Linked DNA regions of Homo sapiens: region 1 is linked to region 2. The links come from fine-mapping of genetic effects on gene expression. A gene starts in region 2. The other region holds a variant in brackets. All regions are shown on one strand. Distances are from middle to middle. Region 1 has its middle 18 kb from the start of LINC02346. Region 2 holds the start of ATP10A (ATPase phospholipid transporting 10A (putative)).

The links.
Region 1: its variant is fine-mapped to the expression of ATP10A in tibial nerve (GTEx, PIP above 0.99). The same link has a PIP of 0.9 or more in fibroblasts.

What each region holds. Positions count from the first base shown.
Region 1 is chr15:25,878,361-25,890,741 of GRCh38, reverse strand. No RefSeq gene overlaps it. Among named protein-coding and RNA genes, the nearest start is that of LINC02346, 18 kb to the left of the region's middle. The variant G/A (reference allele first, on the strand shown) is at 6,090.
Region 2 is chr15:25,859,484-25,871,467 of GRCh38, reverse strand. It overlaps ATP10A (ATPase phospholipid transporting 10A (putative)), which reads left to right and starts at 8,141. Exons shown (of 21, transcript NM_024490.4): 1 at 8,141-8,820. The coding sequence starts at 8,372. ATP10A-DT (ATP10A divergent transcript) reads right to left here and starts at 6,198. Exons shown (of 2, transcript NR_183988.1): 1 at 5,560-6,198.

The sequences.
Region 1 (12,381 bases), 19 kb before region 2:
CCTCTTGCCTTTTCAGTACTGCATAGTCCCAAAGTCTCTCTCTCTGAGCCCTTAGGAAGCACTGCTCATGGGAGCTAGGGCATTACTAGGACTGCTAGATGTCTTTCACAGCCAAAACACACAGCCTCCACAAAATCCCCACCCACTCGCCCCTGGCACTGTAAAGCAACCATGCAAATGAATATATGAAATGGGTAAAAGCTTTGTGTCCAGACAAACATGTGCACAGGGATGTTTATAGCAGCTTTATTCATAACTGCCAAAACTAGGAAGCAACCACCATGTCCTTCAGCAAGTGGATGGCCAAATAAACTGTGGTACATTCAGAGAATGCAATATTATTCAGTAGTAAAATGAAATGAGCTATCAAGCCATAGAAACACATGGAGGAAAGTGACACGTATGTCACAGAGTCAAAGAAGCCAATCTGAAGAGGCTACCCACTGCATGGTTCCAACTGAACGACATTCTGGAAAAGGCAGAACCATGGAGACAGGAAAGTGATCGGCATTTCCTGGGGGCTAGAGGAGAGAGAGGGATGGATAGGGGAGCACAGAGGATTTTTAGGGCAATGAAACTACTCTGTACAATACTGCAACGGCGGATACAGGGCATTATACATTGGTCCAAACCCACACAATACACAACACCAAGAGTGAAGCATAATGTAAGCTGTGGTCTCTGTGTAATAATGATGTATCAATGTGGCTTCATCAATCATAAAGAAATGTGCCACTCTGCTGGAAATATGGACGGTAGGGGAGGCTATGCTTGTGTGGGGGCGGAGAAGATGTTGGGACCCTCTGCTCATCTTGCTGTGAACCTAAAACTGCTGTAAAAAGATAAAATATTTTTTTAAAATGAGATTTTATTGATAAATAGAACGTGCTAGAGAAATTGTTATGTGCCCATTAAGTGGGAGGTATGTTATGCAGAAATGCCAGCCACATAATTTGACCCTCTCATGATTTCTTATTCCTGCAAAGACGGATGTGGCTCATAGCTTGGTCCACCCAGTGCAGGAACGATATGAATAAGTATTTCCATTCTAGCCTAAATGCCTTCCCCATAATGCTTCCAAATCCTTTATTTCCTTTCCCAACTCAAAAGCAGTAAATTGAAGGTAGCAATTTTAGGATCCTATCTGAATTTTCCACCTAACTAACTTTTCTTTTTTCTTAAATCTTGGCAGCTTATGAATCCGCACACATTCCTCTGCCTTGGAGACCTTAAAAAGATTCTAGCGGTCGGGTGCGGTGGCTCACGCCTGTAATCTCAGCACTTTGGGAGGCCAAGGCAGGTAGATCACGGGGTCAGGAGATAGAGACCATCCCGGCTAACATGGTGAAACCCTGTCTCTACTAAAAATACAAAAAATAAGCTGGGCGTGGTGGCAGGCGCCTGTAGTCCCAGCTACTCCAGAGGCTGAGGCAGGAGAATGGCGTGAACCCGGGAGGCGGAGCTTGCAGTGAGCCGAGATCCCGCCACTGCACTTCAGCCTGGGCAACAGAGCGAGACTCCGACTCAAAAAAAAAAACAAGATTCTAGTGACATAATAAATTCTGCCTTATTTCCACCCAAGATCAAAAGCTCTTTACACTTAGTTCCACAGGAATGTGGGGGCAGCAGGTGACCTTAGCGGTTGACGTGAATCTCTCAAAGGCTGGCCGCCTCAGAAGAGATCAAGCCTTAGATCTTCCTTCCCCTGCATGCGACTCTGCCGCCAAGTCTCAGGAGGGCATCTGTACTCACATTTGCAAAAGGTCAGCCGAGCGTGATGGCTTGCACCTATAGACCCAGCTACTCTGGAGACTGAGGCTGGGGGTCACATGAGACCAGGAGTTTGAGACCAGCCTAAGCCACACAGTGCGACCTGTCTCTAAAAAAAAAAAATTGTTTTAAATTAGCAAGCCATGGTGGCATCCATGCGCGTGTAGTCCCAGCTACTCAGAAGACTGAGGCGGGAGTTTGCTTGAGCCCAGGAGTTCAAGACTGTGGTGAGCTAGGATCAGGCCTCTGCACACCAGCCTGGGTGTCAGAGAGAGACCCTATCTCTAAAAACAAACAAACAAACAACAACAAAAAAAACTTGCAAAAAGTCAGGATGGGCATGGAGAGAAGGCACTGGCAAGGAGGTGGCTCCCTACAAGTTTCTTACATCTTCCCTTATACCCTAAATCCTGCCCTCTTTTCCTCCTACCTGGATAATGATTTTCTTCCTTTGGCCTCTCTGATGTACATCCCACCCTCAATATCTTCCCTTTAGTCTACTTTCCATTATGAAAACCTGGAAAGGAAAGAAGCTTCAAAGTCAAAATCCCCTAGTATTCAAAATTGTTTAGGAACCATGAAGTACCAATTTTCCCCATCAGATAAGCAAAAGAGACAGATGGATAGTATCTTATAGGTTTGGACGTAGGGAAATAGCTCACTCCATGCAGTGGCAGATACAAACTCCATGCAGTGGCACAGCATTTTGGAAGGGCTCTTTGGAAGGACTGCACCTATTCAAATTCAAATGCATGTTTCCTTGACTGAGATACCAGTTCTAGGAATCTAGCCTATATCAATTCAGTCAGTGCCAAAGGTATACGTGTAATGTATGTTTTGAGTCATATTGTTTGCAATAGAAAACCACTTATATGATCGAAATACTTATCAGTATGTCACTGGTCAAGAAGGTTTTGAAAACACTTTGCTAGAGAATGCAACAGAGCTACCACAAAGGGTAAGATCCAAACAGCCTGCAAAGAAAGATTTTCTATATTGTGCTTCTGCTGTTATACGATAAGCAAAGACCAGGGTCACATGTTTCTTTTGTAGTTTAGCCATATGGACTCCCAAGGTGTAAACACCACCCCCCATGGAGTCATGGCATCAGACTCCTCAGCAACCTCAAGGACAGGTTTCAGAGTAGCAACTGGACTGCGTCTCACATCCTTGCCTCAGCCCAGTAAAGGTCTTCCTGCAGAATCTTACCCTGGCTCACACCTCTTTTCATTCCAAAATACAAAGAAGATCCATGATTCCATCTCAGATCAAATCTAGAAAATAACAGTTATACATTGAGGCCAAAAAAAAGAAAGAAAGGATAAATATTTAAAAAACAAAAATATAGAGGACAGGCTAGATGCAGTGGCTCACGTCTGTAATCCCAGAACTTTGGGAGGCTGAGGCAGGAGAATTGCTTGAGATCAGGAGTTTGAGACCAGCCTGGACAAGAGAGCAAGACCCTGTCTCTAGAAAAAAAAAGAAAAAAGCCAGGTATGGTGGTGAGTGTCTGTGGTCTCAGCCATTCAGGAGGCTGAGGTAGGAAGATCTCTTGAGCCCAGGAGGTTGAGGCGGTAGTGAGCCAAGATCACACGACTTACTGCACTCCAGCCTGGGCAACAGAGAAAGACCTTGTCTGAAAAAGGAGGGATGGAAGGAAGGAAGGAAGGGAAGGCAAGGGAGGGGAGGGGAGGGGAGGGAGGGAAGGAAGGAAGGAATAAAGGAAAGGAAAGCTCACTAAGGAACCAATAATGAGGAAAGTGTGAGCACAGCTAACATTCAAGAACAACAGCCGTTTGGAAAAATGGCTGCAAGTAACAATTAAAACAAGCAAATAAAAAAGCAACAAAGTACAATTTTTACATAATAAGTCAACAAACATAATGATAAAAACCCTGGGCTCCAGAGGCTCTGTGGAATCTGGTGCACTGTGCATACAAGTGAAGTCCCCACACCCTTTCCCCTCCAAGACACACACTTCCCCAAGCCAGGCGTAAGCACCCAGATCTGCTGGCACAGAATGGGGAGGTTGGGCAAGTCTGCGTGGGAAGGGAACAGAGATGAGGGCCTGGGAGAAAGCACGGGTGACTTGACTAGAGGCCTTGAACTTCCCCTCTCACTGGTCTTTTTCTTTAAAACAAACCCATTCACCATCCCTCCACCCCTCCATGTTCCCTGCTGCTCCTGATTGATGCAAAAGAACAAACACATTCATTTCCTAACAAACACCCATGTGGTGAGATAACATGTTGATCTGAACCGACATGCTTATCATTCCGTCTTTCCCCATGGCCTCCTTCCATTTTGGCAGCAACTTGAGGTCTTGTCTTACCAGCTCTCGAATGTTGGCCGGGAGAGGAGAGGAGACCCAGTGTTGGAGCTCTCAGCCTTTGCATCCCAAAATAGACTTTTGAAACTTCATGTGGAGAAAGAGAGACCTCAGGGAAGCTCATGATGAAAAGGCATTTCTCTCACCCACTTCATCCCAGACTTGACAAAGACGTCAGAGTCCAGGGAAGGAGGAAAGGAGAAGACCAACACAGATAATTCTATATGGCAGGCGGCCTAGCGTCCTGTCCTGCACCCACAAGCCTGATTGAGGGAGAAGGGACAGAGGGAACCCCCTTTTCCTTTCCCTCTTACTTGGCCCAGTCCCTTCCTGGCTTCTGCCTACCCCTGTCTTTGTTGCCTTTGATTCAGTGTTTTGTTACATCCGCATTGGTTTCACTATCTTTCATCAGTCCTATAACCTCTCTTCCCAACTCCTCTGCCTCCCTTTTTCTCAAAATCTATGCCTTTTTTAGACTGACGGTTCCTGCCTTACGACGGTTTGACTTAGACTTTTCAAACTTACTGTGGTGTGAAAGCAATACACACTCAATAGAAACAGTACTTTGAGGCCAGGCATAGTGGCTCACATCTGTAATCCCACAAGTTTGGGAGGCTGAGATGGATGGATCCCTTCAGGCCAGGAGCTCGAGACCAGCCTGGGCAACGTGGTTAAACCTCGTTTCTACCAAAAATACAAAAATTAGCCAAGCATGGTGGCGGCGGGCACCTGTGGTCTCAGCTGCTGGGGAGGCTGAGGTAGGAAGACGGCTTGAGTCTGGGAGGTCAAGGCTGCCACAGAGCAAGAACCTTTCTCAAAAAAAAAAAAAAGAAAGAAAGAAAGAAAAGAAAAAAAAAGAAAAGAAATAGTAGCTGGAGAACCCACACAACTGTTCTGTTTTTCACTTTCAACCGTATTCAATAAACTATCTGAGATATTCAACACTTTATTATAAAATAAGCTTTGTGTGAGATGACTTTGCCCAACTGCAGGCAACTGCAGGCACTCTGAGCATGGGTGAGGTGGGTTAGGCTGAGCTAGGATATTCAGCAAGTCAGGTATATCACATGCACTTTCTACTTAAGATATTTTCCATTGACCACTGGTTCATTGTGACGTAATCCCGTCATAAGCCGAGGAGCATCTGTATTATTACTATTATTATTATTGTTATTATTATTATGGTGTGTGCACAACAAATGTTTATCAGCTTCTCATTCTCTTTTCCCAATTGTCTCATTTTTTCATTTTTCAAATATTTATGGACAATCTACTATGCGCCAGTCATTGTTGCAGGTACTGGAGCTACAGGAGAGGACAAAGTAAACACAATTTCTATCCTTTCCCTCTCATGGACTTTATATTCAAATAGGCTGGGGGCGATGTAGAAAATGATATCAACACATAGACTGTAACACCAGGTGGTGATGAGGGCTCTGAAGATAAGTAAGTCAGGAAGAAGGAAGCTGCCAAACACAACTGGAGTAGTGTCAAAAAGGTACATACCACTAATCTCAGCGCTTTGGGAGGCTGAGACAGGAGAATTGCTTGAGACCAGGAGTTTGAGACCAGCCTGGACAACATAATAAGACCCTGTCTCTACAAAAAAAAAAAAACTTAAAAATTAGTTCAGCATGGCGGTATGTGCTTGTAGTCCCAGCTACTCAGGAGGCGAGGCAGAAGTATTGCTTGAGCCCAGGAGTTTGAGGCTTCAGTGAGCTATGGTCATGCCACTGCACTCCAGCTGGGGTGAGAGAGAGACCCTGTCTCTAAAAAATAATAACAAAATGAAATAAAAAGGGACTGACTTGGATGTCAGTGCATTAGGAAAGGTCTTTGAGAAAGTTGACAGCCTAATGCAGTGACAGTGGCAGTTAGACAGGCATCGATTGCTCAGACTCACAGATCTGCAGATTATTATGAGGCGGAATCCAATATGCTGTGTACAGCAACCACATTAAAGTAAGGTTATGCATCACAGCCAAAGGGC[G/A]TCTCCCAATAAGGGGCCAAGAGAGGTCAGGGCAGGCTCCTCATGCTCCCTCTGAAAGCACTTGGCCAGATGCACCCTCTCTCAGATCAGGACCTAGGAGCTACAGAGGCATGCACTAAGCAGGCTGTTAAAGCTGAACCAAGAAGCAGAGCCAAACTGGGAAGGTGAGGTGCAAGGGACCACAGAGACTGAGTGCAGGGAGCAGAGGCAGGCAGCGGGTGTTTGCGTGCTTTTTGTAAGTATTTTGGTTCATCTTAGTGTGTCCACTTAATGGAGCTAGAATAAGTCAGCAATTTCCATGTGATAGTCCATAATTAAAAGAAATAATACCATGTTGTTATAAGGAAAAGAGAGTTGAATAAGAGGTTCTTGGCTTCATTAAGCCAATTAGATCAGTTTCCTTCTGGGAAAGGCACAATGATTCCTACCGCACCAGAGAATTCAAGTGAACCCTGACAGCTCTCAGGATTAGGAAGTATTTGCTCAAGCATGGAAGTCAAGCTTCAGGGGTGGCTAAAGAATGTCTGAGCCTGACTATGCAGATGCCACGCGTAACTAGACTGTGGGAGGATAGCATATATCGACAGTAAGTCATCCAAAGGGCTTCTAATTTTTGACTTATTATAAAAGCATACTGCACATTCCGGGAAGTGCACACATCATAATGTACAGTTAAAGGATTACCACAAAGTAAATACAGTCATGCCAAGAAGTAGAGCATTGCCAACACTCCAGAAGATCCCTTATGCTTTCCCCAGCCACTGACACCTTTCCTTCTTAAAGGTAACAACAAAAGTAAAAAGAAATGCAAAAACCCAGGCAACTGGCATTCTGTTCAGTTAATAGAATATTACAAAACCTCACAAAGTTCCCTTAAGACCCTTTCCAATCATTTTCCACCCCTCAATGCCAGAGGCAACCATTGTTTAGACTGTTTTCCAAGCTACATTAGTTTTGCCTATCCATGGACTTCATCTACATAGAATCAAACATTAGGGAGTCTTTCATCTCTGGCTTCTTTCACTCAGCATAATGTACTGTGATTCATCTATGTTCTTGAATGTATCCTTGATATTATTGAATAACAGTCCATCATATGGAAATAACACATTTTGTTTATCCATTCACTTGTCGATAGACATTGCAGTGGTTTCTAGTTTTTGGCTATTTTGAATAAAGCTGCAATGAACAACCATTTTATGTACATATATTTTCATTTATCTAGAGTACATGACTAGGACTAGAATTGCTGATCACAGATAAACATATTTCATTAAAACAGAAACTACCACACATAGTTCCATAGTGGTTGTGCTGATGCTGGACAGGCGAGCCCCCAAATTGGGGCTTAGCCTGGGAGGGCTCTTGGCTTCACCCAGGAAAGAATTCAAGGGTGAACCGGTGGTGTTAAACAGCAACTTTGATGGCAGCACAGTGCACAGCAGTAGCAGGGGGTACTGCTCCTTGTGAAGCGGGGCTAACCACAGGCAGTGTGCCCAGAGTAGCAGCTCAGGGGGGTTCCGCAGTCATTTCATACCCACTTTTAATCACAGGCAAATCAAGGGGTGGATTATACAGAAATTTCTAGAAAAAAGATGGTAACTTCTGGGTTGTCAGGTCATTGTCATGGAAAGGGGTGGTAACTTCTGGTGTTGCCATGGCAATGGTAAACTGACATGGCACTGGTGGGCATGTCTTATGGAGAGGTGCTTTTGCCTCTTCCCTGTTTCAGCTAGTCTTCAATCTGGTCTGGAGTCTGAGCCCCACCTCTGGAGTCAAGTCCCACCTCCCGCCTCAGTACCTGCTTTACACTTCCACCTGCAATGCCTGAGAGTTCCAGCTGCTTCACATTCTTTGCCAATATTTGGTGGTATTATTCCTTTTCACTTGAGCCATTCTAATCTGTGTGTAATTGTACCACCTGGGCCTGGAGTTTCCTTTATGGGAAGGACTTTGATTTTGTTTTTATTTCTATTTTTATTCATTTTAAATTTGAGATGGACATTTGGTCTGTTGCCCAGGCTGGAGTGCAGTGACACAATCATGATTCACTGCAACCTCGACCTCCCAGGCTCAAGCAGTCCTCCTGCCTCAGTCTCCCAGGAAGCTGGGACTAAAAGTGTTCACCACCATGCCTGGCTAATTTTTTAAATTTATTTTTAAGAGAGATGAGATCTCACTATGTTTCCCAGGCTAATCTTGAAATCCTGGGCTCAAGTGATCCTCCAGCCTAGGCCTCCCAGAGTGCTGGGATTACAGGCATGAGCTACTTACTGCACCTGGCCTAGGACTTAGATTTTGAATTTAATATCTTTAACTGATATAGAGCTATTCAAATTTTACCTTCATCTTGCACTGGTTTTGGTAAACTGTTTTTCAAAGAAATATCCTATAACATCTAATTTGTTGAATGTATTAGAAGTCCACTATGTTGACTTGTTGTTGTTTTAATAACTATATGTTGTAGTGTTGCAGTGAGAGTGCGATTTCATTTAACCTCCACTTTTTTGCTATCAGTGTCATATATTTTAAATTTGCATAAGTTAGAAACCTCACAATAGATTGGTATAATTTTTTGTTTAAACAATTGCTTGCTTTTCAAAGACATTCAGAAATTAAATATAATACAGTATCTTTTTTGGTTTATATTTACAATATCCAGTCTTCTCCACTTCTTTTCACCTGAAGAACTTTTAGCTTCTCCTCTAACTCAGGTCAGCTGGTAGTGAATTCTCTCAGCTTTTGTTTATCTTAAACTGTCCTTATTTCACACTGTCCTTATTTTTGACAGATATTTCTTCCTCGATATAGAATTATAGGTTGATGGGTTTTGATGAGAAGTAGCTGAATTTATATATAATTTCTCTCTATGTAACATGTCTGGTTTTATCTGGCTATTTTAAAGATTTTCTCCTCATCTTTGATTTTCAGCTGTTTGACTCTATTGGGCCTAGTTGTATTTTTGTTTTATTTATCCTGCCTGCAGTTTTCTGAGCTTCTTGGAGGCTTATGGAAGCTTATATTTTAAACAAATTTGGGAAATAATTGGCCATTATTTTCTCAAAACATTTTTCTGACTCATTCTCTTTCTGTTCTCCTCCTAAGACTCCATCTTTCCATATTGTAGACTATTGAATATTGTCCTACAGCTCAATGAATCTCTGCATACTTTTTCTCCCTAATATTAAGATTGGATAATTTGCATTTATCTATATGAATGTAAGCAGAGTATGCTTTGATCATCTTCAATCTACTGCTAGGGCCATCCAGTGAAATCTTCATTTCATACATTGTACTGTTCTAGAATATCCATTTAGTTCTTTTTACAGTTTCTATTTTTTCCACTGATGTCCCTTATATTAAAATTTATTATGACCATTGTGTATGCTAGGTTGCTGAGAGTCTTTTTCTTCTTGGTCTTCTTTTAGATCTGTGCGTTTTATTCTGGCAGCCAGTTAAGGTACTGGTGGTTCAGCTTGATCCAGCTAAGGCTTGCTTCTGGACTTTGATATTGACATTGTGGGTCTAAAGTAGCCCTTACTCTTTTTTTTTTTTTTTTTTTTTGAGGCAGAGTCTCACTCTGTCGCCCAGGTTGGATTGCAGTGGCGTAATCTTGACTCACTGCAACCTCTGCCTCCCAGGTTCAAGTGATTCTCCTGCCTCAGCCTTCCAAGTAGCTGGGATTACAGGCACGTGCCACTATGCCTGGCTAATTTTTGTATTTTCAGTAGAGACAGGGTTTCGTCGTGTTGGCCAGGCTGGTCTCAAACTCCTGACCTCAGGTGATCCATCCACTTTGGCCTCCCAAAGTGCTGGGATTACAGGCGTGAGCCATCGCCCCTGGCTGAATAGCCCTTACTCTGACTGATGTAGTCCTGTCCCTCAGACATGGCCTTGCTGTGGTCTCACTTGAATACTCAGAGTGTTCACCATTCTGTTTCTGGTGAGGCAGAACTCCTGTGTCTCCCAGCACTCCAAGCACTACACAGTCTCTGGAATTTCCATTCAATCTAGCAGCTGCTCACTGCCAGGCCTTGCAATTGACCAACGCAGAAGCATAGCTTAGTATCTAGCCAAAGACTTAAGCAGACACTGTGCAGACTTTTAAACTCCTTCTCTGCACAGTTCCCCATTCTTTCTGATACCCTGTCCTTCAAATTGCAGCTGCCTAAGCCACCCTGAGCTTCAAGCAAGGCCTCTATTACATGGTGAGACCATCAGTCATGCTCTGGGTGGATTCCACTTCCTCCCATCTCCAGCTGCAGTTTGGAAAATGCCCTCAGGTGGCAAACAGAGGCAATTTTGGTGCCCACCCTACACTCTCTTCCTCTTTCAGGGATCACAGTTCAATCTTGCTATTGCCTGGTGCTCAGAAACAATTACCTTGGCTGGACACCGTGGCTCATGCCTGTAATCCCAACACTTTGGGAGGCTGAGACAGGAGGATTGCTTGAGGCCAGGAGACCAGCCTGAGCAGCATAGTGAGGACTCCTCTCTATAAAGTAAATAACTAAATTAGGTGGGTATGCAGCACATACCTGTAGTCCCAGCTACTCTGGAAGCTGAGGTGGGAGGATTGCTTGAGCCCCAGAGGTCAAGGCTGCAGTGAGCTATGATCGTAACCACTGAACTCCAGCCCGAGCTACGGAGTGAAATCCTGTCTCAAAACAACAAAACTCCTCACCTATTTTGCCCATATTTATAGTTGTTGATGGTGGAAAGGTTAGTCTGGTATCAGTGACTCCATCATATGGCAAGAAATGAAAGTAAATTGCCAAGAGTTTCATTTTCTTTTTAAATTTGTACTTTAATGATTTATAAACATCATCATATACAGGTTATATTTTACAACATGTTGTCCAACCTTTAAAACAAACAAAGAAACTTCAACAAATGTAAAGTAAGGAAACAGATTTTTAAGTAGCTTGGTTTTCAAAAAATTCATTTTGAGGAAAGCGGAGCCATGGAAAGGTCTTCTGCTGACAATGCTGCTACGCTACCTTCCACCACGCCAGCAGAGTCCCTGGATGCTAGGATCTAAATGCATTTGGCAGACACAGCTGAGAAATAGATGTGTGACGTTAATAAAAGAAACAGTTTAAAAATGCATGCTTTACTCCAATCTGTACCTATATTTTTATATTTTTGTCTTCTGCAGCACTCTCATTTGCTTGGAGTTTATAAATTATTGCACTTGCCAGAGCCATCATTCTAATAATAAAAATGCTAAATTTAAACTTTCACTTTTTTGAACTAAAACTCTCAATTCTGCCTGTAATCTCAGCTACTTGGGAAGCTGAGGCAGGAGAATTGCTTGAACCCAGGAGGTGGAGATTGCAGTGAGCTGAGATCGTGCCATTGCACTCCAGCCTGGGTGAGTAAGACTCTGTCTCAAAAAACATACAAAAAAGAAAATAAACAAAAAATACCCTCTCAATTCTACTGGAAATATAACCTAAGGTTTTTTTTGTTTTTGTTTTTGTTTTGTTTGTTTGTTTGTTTTTTACTTTAAGTTCTGGGATACATGTGCAGAATGTGCAGGTTTGTTATGTAGGTATACATGTGCCATGGTGGTTTGCTGCACCTGTCAACCCATCATCTAGGTTTTAAGTCCCGCATGCATTAGGTATTCGTCCTTTTACTCTCCCTCCTCCTTCCCCCCACCCCACAACAGGCCCTGGTGTGTGACATTCCCCTCCCTGTGTCCATGTATTCTCATTGTTCAACTCCCATTCATGAGTGAGAACATGCTGTGTTTGGTTTTCTGTTCCTGTGTTAGTTTGCTGAGAATGATGGTTTCCAGCTTCATCCATGTCCCTGTGAAGGATATGAACTCATTTGTTTTTATTGCTGCATAGTATTCCATGGTGTATATGTGTCACATTTTCTTTATCCAGTCTATCATTAATGGGCATTTCAGTTGGTTCCAAGTCTTTGCTATTGTAAATAGTGCTGCAGTAAACATACGTGTGCATGTGTCTTTATGGCAGAATGATTTATGATCCTTTGTAACCCAAGTTTTATTTTAAAAAAAAGTTAAAGTTTCAACCAAGCCAGAAGATCATAACTACAGAGAAAGGAAAAGAACATGAAATATCCAGTTTTCTACATGGGTAGCTAAAGTATGTAATGTATGTGCATTACTTTTACTCAAAGTTGCTTTTTTCTTTTAGAGACAGACTCTTGCTCTGTTGCCCAGGCTGGAGTGGAGTGGAGTGGCATGATCATAGCTCACTGCAGCCTCCAACTCCTGGGCTCAAGCAATTCTCCTGCCTCAGCCTAAGTAGCTGGA
Region 2 (11,984 bases):
CTAGCTAGCTAGCTAATTATTTCTATCTTTCTATTAATATCTATCTTCTATTCTTGCTGTTTCTCTGGAGAATCCTGACTAATACAGCTATTTTATAGTTCATTTGTTGAGTTGAAAAAATAAATCCAGCTGGAATATTAGTTCGGAAAATGTATAAGATCAACTGGTTACTTTCAGAGTTCCAATCAGGGACATGGCATATTTTATATCTATTGAGATCTTCCTTTATCACATTCAGTAAAATTTTAAGTTGACTAGTCATGTGACAACATACTTCTCATCTATAATATTGGGATAAACATTCTCCTGTCTCAGTGAATGGCCAGGAGGGCGGAGAAAATGACTAGAAAATGAGAAGCACATGCCTGGCTGGTGTTACATGTGCTACACAGGCCAAATATTACTCCTGCTGTTGTTTGCTACAATTATTTGCAAACATCTTGAACTGGTTTTTGTTATTTTTCCTTAAATATTTTATTCTAAAAATGAGACCATTTTTGTTCATTTACTGCATTTTCTAATTGGCTATTGCTTGCATAGGAGTAACTTACTGATTTGTACATCTTTATTGTATAGTTAGCCTCATTACTAACTACTTCCCTGATAAAAACCACAGTTTATTACCTGGGCATAGTGGCATGCCTGTAGTCCCAGCTACTTGGAGGGCTGAGATGGGAGAACCACTTGAGCCCACGAGGTCGAGGCTGCAGTGAGCTGTAATTGCTCCACTGCACTCCAGCCTGGGTGACAAAGCTAGATCTTGTCTCAAAAAAAACCTCACAAAGTTGCAAATAGTGATAGATTTTGCCTTTACACCTATAAATATTACTATAGAATAAAAAAGAAAACTACAAATAAACTATTTTCCCTTGCAATTCTGCTATCCAGTTTTAATAGCAGGTTTTGCTAACCTTGCAGAATAAATTGAGAGGGTTTCAATATCTTTTTGTACTGCATTATAAATAAAATTGAGGAATAAACTATTTTGTAAACTTTGTCAAATATTCTCCATTGCGTGGTTTTGGAAGATGAGATTCTGAGGACCCGTTCAAGATCTTCCGGAGATTGTTAATCTATTCGAAATACGTGCTTATTCCTTATTAATTTATATTTTGTTTATTATATAAATACGTTAGCATGATATCAAGGTAAATACTTTTTCTTTCAGCACACAAGCACAAGTGTTGTCTCTCTGAGTCTTTGCTTGTCTGCAAATGCATTTAATTGTCAGGATCGTTGAATATCAATTTGACTAACAGAGAAGCTTATATTCAAAACCTACTTCTCAAAAAATTCTGTTGATGTTTTTCCATCACAGAATGAAGGTGAACATTCATCTACCGGATATTTAGTAAGAAGCCACCCTGCGCGGTGCTCTTCTAGGCACAGGGGCTACCTTGCAGCAGTGAAAGAGGCAGACACTGACTCCTGCCTTGTGGAGCTGAACGTCTTGCCACGAAGGAGAAGAGGCAGTCAGCTAACACGTGGGATGCCTATCGGTGCAAATTCAAATAGAGCTGGAAGGGGATGTGGAGCCCTGGGTGGGTTGTGTAGGAAGTGCCTGGAGAGTTGCAACCCAGCTGGGCTGAGCTCTCTGGTGTCTTCCTTCTGCCCGGTCTTGGTTTCATTATCTTAGTTGCCCTGTTAGTTCCCTGTGGCTTTAAAATACATTTTTTGTAAGCATTTTGTCCATCTTTCCTAGATGTCTCCTGAAGGGCTGTCCCAATTTTCTTGGTCTGCTACTGGCGCAGGCAAAAGTGAGAGGGATTTTTCTGGATCCACCCTCTCCCCAATATGACCATCTAGATTGTTAATGTTGCCACTTTGTGGGTTTTTTTTTAATGTGTTACCTGCTGTGCTTTCTACTTCCAAGAATTTTTGGCTGTTCCTCATTTACTTCCTTTCCATGGCAATTTTATAGATGGGCTGGTCTTCTGGATATCTAAGGACAATAACGGTGATTTCTAATGTTATTGTCTGTGTTCTGCATTGGCTCTTTTTCCTCAGAGAGGGGAAACTCACTTGGGTGAAGTTTGCTTTTTTTTTTTCATATTACCAGTTGTTCTAAAACAATCCAGTGACTCTTGACTGTAATATAGATTCATGCTTATCATTGCAGATATCGACCAGAGGTTCTTAAACCTGGCTGCAATTGGAATCACCCAAGAAGCTTTTAAAAAATCTGGGTGCTGGGGCCTGGTCCCCATGTGTACTGAGTCTGGAGCAAGGCTTGGGCATTGCTTGGGCATTAGTAGCTCATCAGGTAACCTTAAGGAGCAGCCGGTCTTAAGAGCAGCTACTTGAAATAACCAGCGTGGGACTTGCAGTGGCATCCTGGATGTAGCAACATGGCGGCCTCGTTATTTTCCCACCTGCGCCTCATCCTAGAATGGCCTGCTTTCTCTGATTTTGAGCCTTCTCAAGGGATCTACTGGAAAAACTCACTTTTTTAAAAAAAGTGTCCTTGCTTACTTAACTCTGTAATATGTTTTCTTTTTTCTTTTCTTTTTTTTTTGAGACTGAGTCTCGCACTGTCTCCCAGGCTGGAGTGCAGTGGCGGGATCTCAGCTCACTGCAACCTCCGCCTCCCAGGCTCAAGAGATTCTCCTGCCTCAGCCTCCCGAGTAGCTGGGATTACAGACGCGCGCCACCACGCCCTGCTAAGTTTTTGTATTTTTAGTAGAGACGGGGTTTCAACATGTTGGCCACGCTGGTCTGGAACTCCTGACCTTGTGATTCGCCCGCCTCGGCCTCCCAAAGTGCTGGGATTACAGGCATGAGCCACCGCGCGTGGACAATATGTTTTCTCATATGTGTTAGACTTTCCCGCTAATGTGTTCATCAGTTTTATGTATTCCTGACATCCCTCAATATCTTCTGAGATATCTTTTCGTCTTCTGAAGGTACTTTTTCCCAGCTCCCCAGCACAACTGTACATTTATCTTTTTGAAAAATATCATGTGTTTTGTAAAGGAAATTTAGTTTGGAAAAACGGAGAACAAATTATCTCAGGCAGGCATATCAAACTATGAATTCCTTAGAAATTATGGTATGTGGGATAAGGAAAAGCTTAAAAATAAAAAATATAAATTTTTGCTTCTCTCTCTAGAATATATTTTTTTTTTTTTGACGGAGTTCACTCTTGTTGCCCAGGCTGGAGTGCAATGGTACAACCTCGGCTCACTGCAACCTCCACCTCCCTGGTTCAAGCGATTCTCTTGCCTTAGCCTCCTGAGTAGCTGGGATTACAGGCATGTGCCACCACACCCGGCTAATTTTGTATTTTTAGTGGAGATTGGGTTTCTCTGTGTTGGTCAGGTGGGTCTCGAACTCCCGACCTCAGGTAATCCGCCTGTCTCGACCTCCCAAAGTGCTGGGATTACAGGCATGAGTCACTGTGCCCGGCCAGAATTTTGTATTTTTAGGATTATGTACATAATCATAGATTTAGCTTACTCAATCATTAGTCAATTACTTTTGTCCAAAATTTCACAGCTCTGTATTTTGGAAGTTTTTGGATGATGCTGAGGCCATATTAATTAATAGGTAGCATCTGTGCCTGGTTTTTCATATTACAAATTTCAGAATCTGGCTGGACCCAGGTGGGAGGATTGCTTGAGCCCAGGAGTTTGAGGCCACCCTGGGCAACATAGGGGGACCCTGTCTCTTTCTAAAAATTAAAAATAAAAATAGTTTATTTATTTTTGAGATGAAGTCTTGCTCTGTCACCCAGGAGTGCAGTGGCACAATCTCGGCTCACTGCAACCTCCACCTCCCAGGTTCAAGCAATTCTCCTTCCTTGACCTCCCAAGTGGCTGGAATTACAGGTGTGCATCACCATGCCCAGCTAATTTTTGCATTTTTAGTAGAGACGAGATTTCACCATGTTGTCTAGGCTGGTCTTGAACTCCTAACCTCAAGTGATCCTGCCCACCTCGTATCCTAAAGTGCTGGGATTACAGGAATGAACCACCACGCCCAGCCAAAAATTAAAAATATTTAAAATAAAAATTTTAAAAATGTCAGAATCTGTTATGCCTATTTGTAAGGGCAGTCACTAGAGTAAATATTAAACAATGCTGTCAGGTTAAAATGTTTTAGACTGTGATTCTTACTTATTCCATAATTATTTATTTCACCAGCCATTAGAGGTACTGATTCTTGGTATCTGAAAACTGGAAACAATCTTGATGATTGTCTCATTCAATTCTCTATACTTCTTAGTTGGAAAGTAACACCCAGAGTCTCTTTTTATGCCCTGTGTGCATCTCGCGCATCTAGGTGCGATCTCATCACATAGCTCTAACCCCCAGGTGTCTCCCAGCATCCCCCACAGCTGTGTCACCAGTGTGGACCTTTGCTGTCATGTCCGGTCTTCGATACGCCACTGCCCACTTGCCATCTCACACTTAACATGGCTTATGCTGAGCTTGCATTTTCTCCTTAAACCACTTCATTTATTTTTCTCACTGAAACATCCAACCTGTTGGCCAGTCACATTAGCTCTGCCTGGAAGACGTACTTCCAATTTGTCCATGTCTGTCTATCCAATGCCAGGTGTAAGCCACCTCTTAATTTACACCTCTCCTGCTCCAACTCTGCTCGGAATCAATTTTCTATCTATTAAAAGAGCATATAAGATCTTCTCATCTCACGCCTCTCTGCTTGGGGCAGCCCATGGCTCCCTATTGCAGTTGGAGCAAATCCAGAGACTTGTCCTTTCCAAAGGCTAGTGAAGCCCTAAATGCTGGCCACTCTGCTGCTCCTCATGGCTACCCTCTCCTGCATCCAGACCTGCTCTTGACCCCAGACTGACATCACCACTGCCAGCACGACTCCTGCTCCTGAGGGCTGGTGGGCACCTCCAGTTCTGCCTCATCTTCTGTCTTCCCAACTCACTAGATGAAACTTGGGTTTTTAGCTGTTGGGCCACCCTCACCTCCTCTCTTGCACATCCCACAACCATTCCAACAGCATGTCCCGCATGCTCTGAGGAGGCTATGTCCCACATCCACCATGGCCACCCAGCCTGAGCCACAGCACCTTTGCAGGATCACTGCAGTGGCCGCTCGCCACGACGTCTCCCTTCTTCTGCCCTGGCCCTCTACATTCTATTTACATTGCAGCAGGAGTGATCTCTGGAAACCTCGGTAAAGCCACTTGATGCCACTTCTCAAAATCCTCCCAAGCTTTCCCTCTCGCTCAAAAGCCAAAATCCTCACCGGGATCCACAAGGCCCCACATGACCTCACTCTCGGCCACGTCTCCAATCTCCCACTCAGCTCCAGCTACCCCGGCTTCCTTGCTGGGCCTGAAATCCCTGAACGCTCCCTATCCCGCCCCGTGCTTACCATTTCTTCCCTAGGTGCCTGCACAGCTTGTGTCCCTAGGCCTCCGCTCAGTGTTGCTTGAGAAGCCTCCTTGGACCGCCCAATTGACAGGAGCAAGAGCAGGATCCCACCCCTCCCAGCCCTGGTTTCAGGTGTCCCTTCATTTTCTGAGCCATCTTTGTTGGGATTCCCACGTGAGGACTTAGTGTTCCGGGGAGCAGAAACTTACTGTGTTTCCCAGGTGTCCCCATTGCCTAAAGCAGAAGCTGTGGGGTTGAAGGTTTTAGAATGAGTGTGAGGCAGAAGCCCCACCTGTTTCTTAAACACATTGAGATTTCTCCTTCTTTGGGACCTTTTGACAGAGCTGCCCCCTCTGTCTGGAAGCCTCTTCCACCTGATCTTGTCCCATTCAGGTTTCAACTCCAGTGCCTCTCTTCGAAAAGGCCATCCCTCATCCCTTCCAAAGCCCTCCGTGGGCTCTCATGGTTTTTCGTTCAGTTGCTGCAGCTCCATGACAACATCTTGTCCTCTCTAGCTCTCCGATGAATTCCTGTGCCTGGAACATTGCCGGGCATACAGCAGGGGATGAGTAAGTATTTGCCGAACAAGGACACTTACAGTGGTTCTCATGGCCTATAGCAGGCCCTTGTTAGAGCCCTGTGGTGCAGATGGCCAACCCAGAGTTGACCAGACCACATCAGAGCCTCATCCTCGCCCCAGCAGGCCAGGGTCTCAGAGTCCAGCTGGCAGAAGACACCTGAGCTCAAAACCCCTCCACGATTCCCCAGATCACACAGCTTGGAGACCTTTCCAGAGGTGAGCTGAGCTAGGCCTTCCTGGAAATCCTGACTTTGCACTGGGGAAGAGCAGGTGGAAAAAGATTCCAGACTTGAGGAGCATTGTGACTCACAGAATCTTGGAACCTTAGAGCGGAATGTGGATGGGATGAGTAAGGACTGTTCTGAGAAGGATAAGGAGACCTCTCACCTTGGGGCTGGGCCTGAACCAGGGAGGGGCTGAAGAAAATCAGCAAGCTGGTTCCCCTCAGGGCCTCAAGGGACCTCTGCCTGAGGAATCAGCATTTGGCTTTGTAAGCACCAGGAGTACTCCTGGAAGCTCCAGGGTAAGCAAATGGAATGAGGCGGTAATTACTTTGGCAACAGTGTGGACTGGCTGAAGCTGGGAGTCTGGTAGGCGCGGACACCCCTGGAGACTTTGGGCGAAGGGTCCACGGGGATGCCTGTGAAGACAGGAGGCCGAAGTGTAGGGAGGCCGAAGGCCTCGGGGGTCACCAGGTGGGCTGGTAGAGGAAAACACGGAGCCATGGGATGTGAGGCCTCAAGACTGCAGGCGCTGTGGGCCTTCATTTGCAGTTGATGCTCCGTTTGGGTTTCTGCTGGTTGACTGTGAGACCTGACTCCTTTCCCCAACAATGCAGACTTCAGCCAAACCTTTCCCTGATCTGGGCCTCTACATGTCAAAAGCCCACCCCTGTGACTGGGGGATGGGATTATTTTCTTCACACCTGTCACCACTCTACCTTCTAACACTGGGTTCTGGGCAACATTGTGGATGGTGGCAAAACTGGGCAGAGATGTAAGAATGTCATAACTGGAGCCGGGTAAGCCAGGGTGCTGGAGGGGAGGGCCTCCCCAAGCCAGGGTCCTGGCGAAGACGTGATTTGAGTCCATCCAGGGCAGTGCCTTGTTAGCAGGCACCCCCAGGAAGAGCCTGGGGCCACGGCCAACCGCCCAGCCACGGCCTCCTGGGCAAGAAATAACTGCTTCTCATCTCTGTACTTCTTGAGTGGGAGGCAAACAGTCACAGCCATGAAACATCTGTGGGGTCTCACTGCGGACGTGGGGGACTCCCAGCTCCTTTTTCCATGCCGTGCTTATTCTCCCACCCCTTCTCGGATGCCCCATGATGTGGAGGGGAGCCCTTCGCCCCACACTTCTGGGACACCCTCCTGACGCTCCCCTCTCCTCCCCACAACCATCCTCGCCTCCCCACAACCATCCTCGCCTCCCCCGCCGTCCGGGCCATGACAGCCACCTCAGAGCTACAGCGCACAAGGAGCGTTTCGGTCCTCATGATTTCCCAGGGAGGGAAACAGACACTCAAATACCTGCAAACCAAATTCTGTCTTTGCTATAGCGATATATTTCTCCTTTCCATGAAGAAAGAACAGAAAAAAGAAAAAGAATTTATTTAGGAGAGGAAGGAAAGGCAGTAATGATGATGGTGGAAAGGAAACGGTCTAGTTCGCCCAACAACGGAATCTGAAAGTGGTGGGGGCTGGGAAGTGGGGTAGGAAAGAAGTTCTTAGAGGCAACGCGGAATCGCCCTTCCCAGGGCTCCCCAGGAGCAGAGGTCCTGCGTAAAAAAGACTTAAAAATTGGAGCACTGGATGCCATGGATCCTTTGGATTTTGATTCCAGTTGATCCCTGGAGTAAGGTCCTAACCGGGGTCTCCCGAGGTCGTTTCGCCGTCCAGGATGGAGCAGGTCTGGCCCCTGGAAGGGCGCGCGGGCTGCTTGGGGACGGGGGCGCCTTTTCTCGCGCTTCGCGGTTTCCTCTCTCCTACTGCAGGCAGCGCGCGTTTGCAGCGTTTTGGGACCGAACTGATGCTTCTGGGAAACGAAACTAAACCTCTCTGAAGTTTCCAGCTCGGGCTTTTTTTGTTTCCCGCTATCCGGCGTGGCCCAGTCCGGGCGCGGAACGAGGGCGGGGCCGTGGCCACCGCGGCGGAAACGACCCGGGCCGGGGGCGGGCGGCGAGGACAAGGGGGCTCTGTGCGGCACCCGCCCAGCTTGCGCCCTGGGGACTGCGGCCGGGCGGCGGGGCTGGACGGGAGTGGACGGGGCTGGGCGCGGGCTGGGCGCGCTGGGCCGGCCAGGCGGCGCGCTGACCGCGGTCTCCGTGCGTCCCGCAGGCGGGGAGCTCGCACCGCCGCGCCCGGGCCGCGAGTGATGATAACCTAAGAGGCCGGCGCGGGCGGGCGTGAGCGGCGGAGGAGCCGGGCGCGGCGACACGCGGCCATGGAGCGGGAGCCGGCGGGGACCGAGGAGCCCGGGCCTCCGGGACGGCGGAGGCGCCGAGAGGGCAGGACGCGCACGGTGCGCTCCAACCTGCTGCCGCCCCCGGGCGCCGAGGACCCTGCGGCTGGCGCGGCCAAGGGCGAGCGGCGACGGCGGCGCGGGTGTGCCCAGCACCTGGCCGACAACCGGCTCAAGACTACCAAGTACACGCTGCTGTCCTTCCTGCCCAAGAACCTGTTCGAGCAGTTCCACCGCCCGGCCAACGTGTACTTTGTCTTCATCGCGCTGCTCAACTTCGTGCCGGCGGTGAACGCCTTCCAGCCCGGCCTGGCACTGGCGCCGGTGCTCTTCATCCTGGCCATCACGGCCTTCAGGGACCTGTGGGAGGACTACAGCCGCCACCGCTCCGACCACAAGATCAACCACCTGGGCTGCCTGGTCTTCAGCAGGTGAGTTGGGCGGGCGGGCGAGCGAGCGCGCGGTGGCGCAGGGCAGGGCGCCCCGGGAACTTGGTGTTGGGCACAGTGATTGGCAGGGGCTGGGTGCTTAGAAGGCAGCTCCACTCAGGGTGGAGGGCCCGGCTGCGCGGGACCCGGTGCCGACCGAAGCCACAGCGCCGCCAAGGCCTCTCTGTGCCTCCGCCGCAGCTAAAGGGGCGCCCTGGATGCGGGGACGCGTGGGGATCCCCTGTCACTCCGTGTCGGGGCCAGAATGATCCCAAGGCTAGAAACCGACGGCCGCTGGACATCCTCATCCACAGCCGCTCCCACCTGAAGTGAAAGGCAGGAAAAGCCAGCCTGGCCCCCTGGCCTGAAGTCCCTGCCTCAGTCTTCGGCCAGGCACAGTGGTCTCTGAACAGCCGGCACAGGACAGTAAAGCTCAGTCTGCTAACAGCTCGGCTCAGGACAGCAGCAAAGTGAAACTGCCGCCAAGTGCTGATATGTCTGGCACGGCCCAGGTACCAGGGCAGGGGAAATAACAGCAGTGTCCATCCTCCACTGTGAGCCATGAGCCGCGAGCCAGGCACCGCCCGGTAGCTGCCTGCCTAATTTTCTTCATCTTAACCTGCTTCCTGGGGGAAAGAGGCTGTGGGGTGTTTGTGAGCCCTGCCACGGGCAGTACCAGGGGTGACCCTGCGATGGACCACTCCTGCTCTTTTTCCCTCCCTGAGTTTTAGAGTCTCCGGCGGACCTGTCCAGAGGCCTGCGGCCTTTTCATCCTTTATGCTCTCCACCCCAGGAGAGCCCCTTGGTAGATCCATCTTGGAGCTGTGTCCAGCAGCCTGGACCACCTCAAGGCCCTGTCCCTGAGAAAGGTGGGTCGTCTTAGCTTTCCTCCAAAGCTCAGCCCATCGTTACCTCCTGCCTCACCTTGCTTGACCCCGGAACAGGGACTGAGATGGGCTTCTGAATAGAACATTAGCGGTATCTGGCTTCCATTATGCATGGGGAGACTCTAGGAAGCCCTATGCTCTCTTAGTGGCAGATTGTTCCCCTAAAAGAGGAGGGTCAGAGTGGCTCCTGCCTCTTAAACGTAGGCATTCACGAATGCCTTAGACACAGGCACTCATAGCTTGGATGAAGCCATGGATGCGTGCCTCTGTAGTTGAGTACCTTTCACCCTCCCAGCAACACTGCAGTGGTTATGCTCCATATTTTTGTAAACAGAGTAAACGGGTTCAGAGAGGTTAAGTAAACCTGCCCAGTGTCACACAGCAGCAAGGTCGTGGTACTGGGATTTGACCCAGGTCTTCCCGCCCGCACAGCTTTTTGAATATTTCTTTGCTCGTGCTTCTGAAACTTTTGTAAGAGTCACTGAAGGCGCTTGTTAAAATTACAGTTTTCCAAAGTGTCTCACTCAGCAGGCCTGGGATTGAGCCCAGGAATGTATTAGATTAGCGTGCACGTAACTCTTATATGATGGCCCACACTTTCAGAAACACCACTCTGCCTGCTCCCAAGCCTTGCTCTTTGGCCAGTCAGCAAGAGTGACTGTCATTAGACCGGGCTGTGGGATTTCCTGGCCCCTGTTCACCAGAAGCCTGAGCAGGGACAAGAGCGGCACCCCTTACACAAATGGCCTCCGTGTCCCCTGAGCGAGGCCTCCACCACATAGCCCTGGTGGGGCTCAACAGTTTTAAGCCTTTGCACAGATACCACTTCCTGTTATTACTGAGCCCGTAACTCCTGTAGCCTCCTTTTTAGAAATACTTATGCCTCAGGAGAAATACAGTTTATTTTCAGTTGGCAAAGTGCTTTGAATCCATTATGTCATTCGATCCTTATAGTAACTATCACACCCATCTTGCCGATGAGGAAACTGAGGTTGGGATCTAAAAGCTATTCTCTTGTCTCTGTGACCTTGTAAGGCTTCATGGGACTTTGAAACTTTAGCTTCCATTTGGACTACACCCATCTACGTTCCCCTCCCCTTCCACTCTGCCCTTGACTCCAGATATCTTAACTCTCCCTCAGACTCTGTCTTCTTCCTTACTGAAGGAACTGTCAGCATTTTTCATTCACTTCCCAGCTGCCTTGAGGACAGTGGGCGCAATGCCCTACTTCTGTTTATTGTTCCCTGGGAAGGCAGGTCAAATTCTTCCAGTCCCAGAAAGGCTGGAAGAGGTGGTGCCAGGCCCTGGGAATAGAAGGAGGAGGAGGCTGGTTTCACCCAGAGTTTACTGTAGGGACAGATGGCACCATAGGGCATGTCTACCAGGTGAAGTCCTGGGTGGGGCTCCCAGCCCCGGGATGCAGGCTCCATGTCTGGCGAGGCGTCCCAGTGCAGGACAAGAGTCTGGGACGGTGGTGTGAGGATCAGGAAAATGGTGCCAAGCAAGGTGGGGCAGAGAGTGGGTGCTGCAGTGAGAGATCGGGGGCGGGGGGTGGACAGGGTCATGGCACAGAGGTTGAGAACAGGTTCTAGGGTACACTGGGGTGAAGCATCGACATGAAGCCCTGGCTCTCAGGACCTGGCACCCAGACAGCACAGAGCAGCCAAGGAAATGACTTCTGTGTCAGGCCAAGGTCTGTGCAGTGCGTTTGGTTGACTGCAGAGAAGACCAGACGCACGACTGTGAACTGTCTAGGTCTGTTTTGTGTGGCGCTTCCTCCAAGTGTTGCTGCTCTAGCTGCTGTGCATAGGAGTGTCGGTCCAAGCGTGCAACACATTGTTCACGCAGAGTATGAGCAGACTTTAGCTGGAAGTCTTACCTGCTGCCACTGTCCCAGAAGTGACTTCTGGGACATTCCCTTGTATGTGGATGTGCAGCCTGTAGTGCGTCATCGTTTATGTTATTATTTATGTGCTGTTTTTCAGTGACACCATCCTTGGGCCCCTTTCTGTGAGAATCCCCTTAGAGCCTGTTAGAAATGTAGCTTCCTAGGCCAGGGTGTTTGAGAAGCAGTCCTGTTTCCTCCTTCTGAACCCATTTTCTCCTAATGGATTTCACACGCTATTTAGGAAAACCCTCTTGAGCCACGCTCAGCAGGTTGGGGGAGCACTGGGTGATTCTGGGGGGGTTAGGTCCTGCCTGTGGCGCCTGCAGGGGGGAAGGGCCACCCACCCAGCGTCACTAAGCTGTGGTCCACTGTGATGGGAGGGTGTGGGAAGC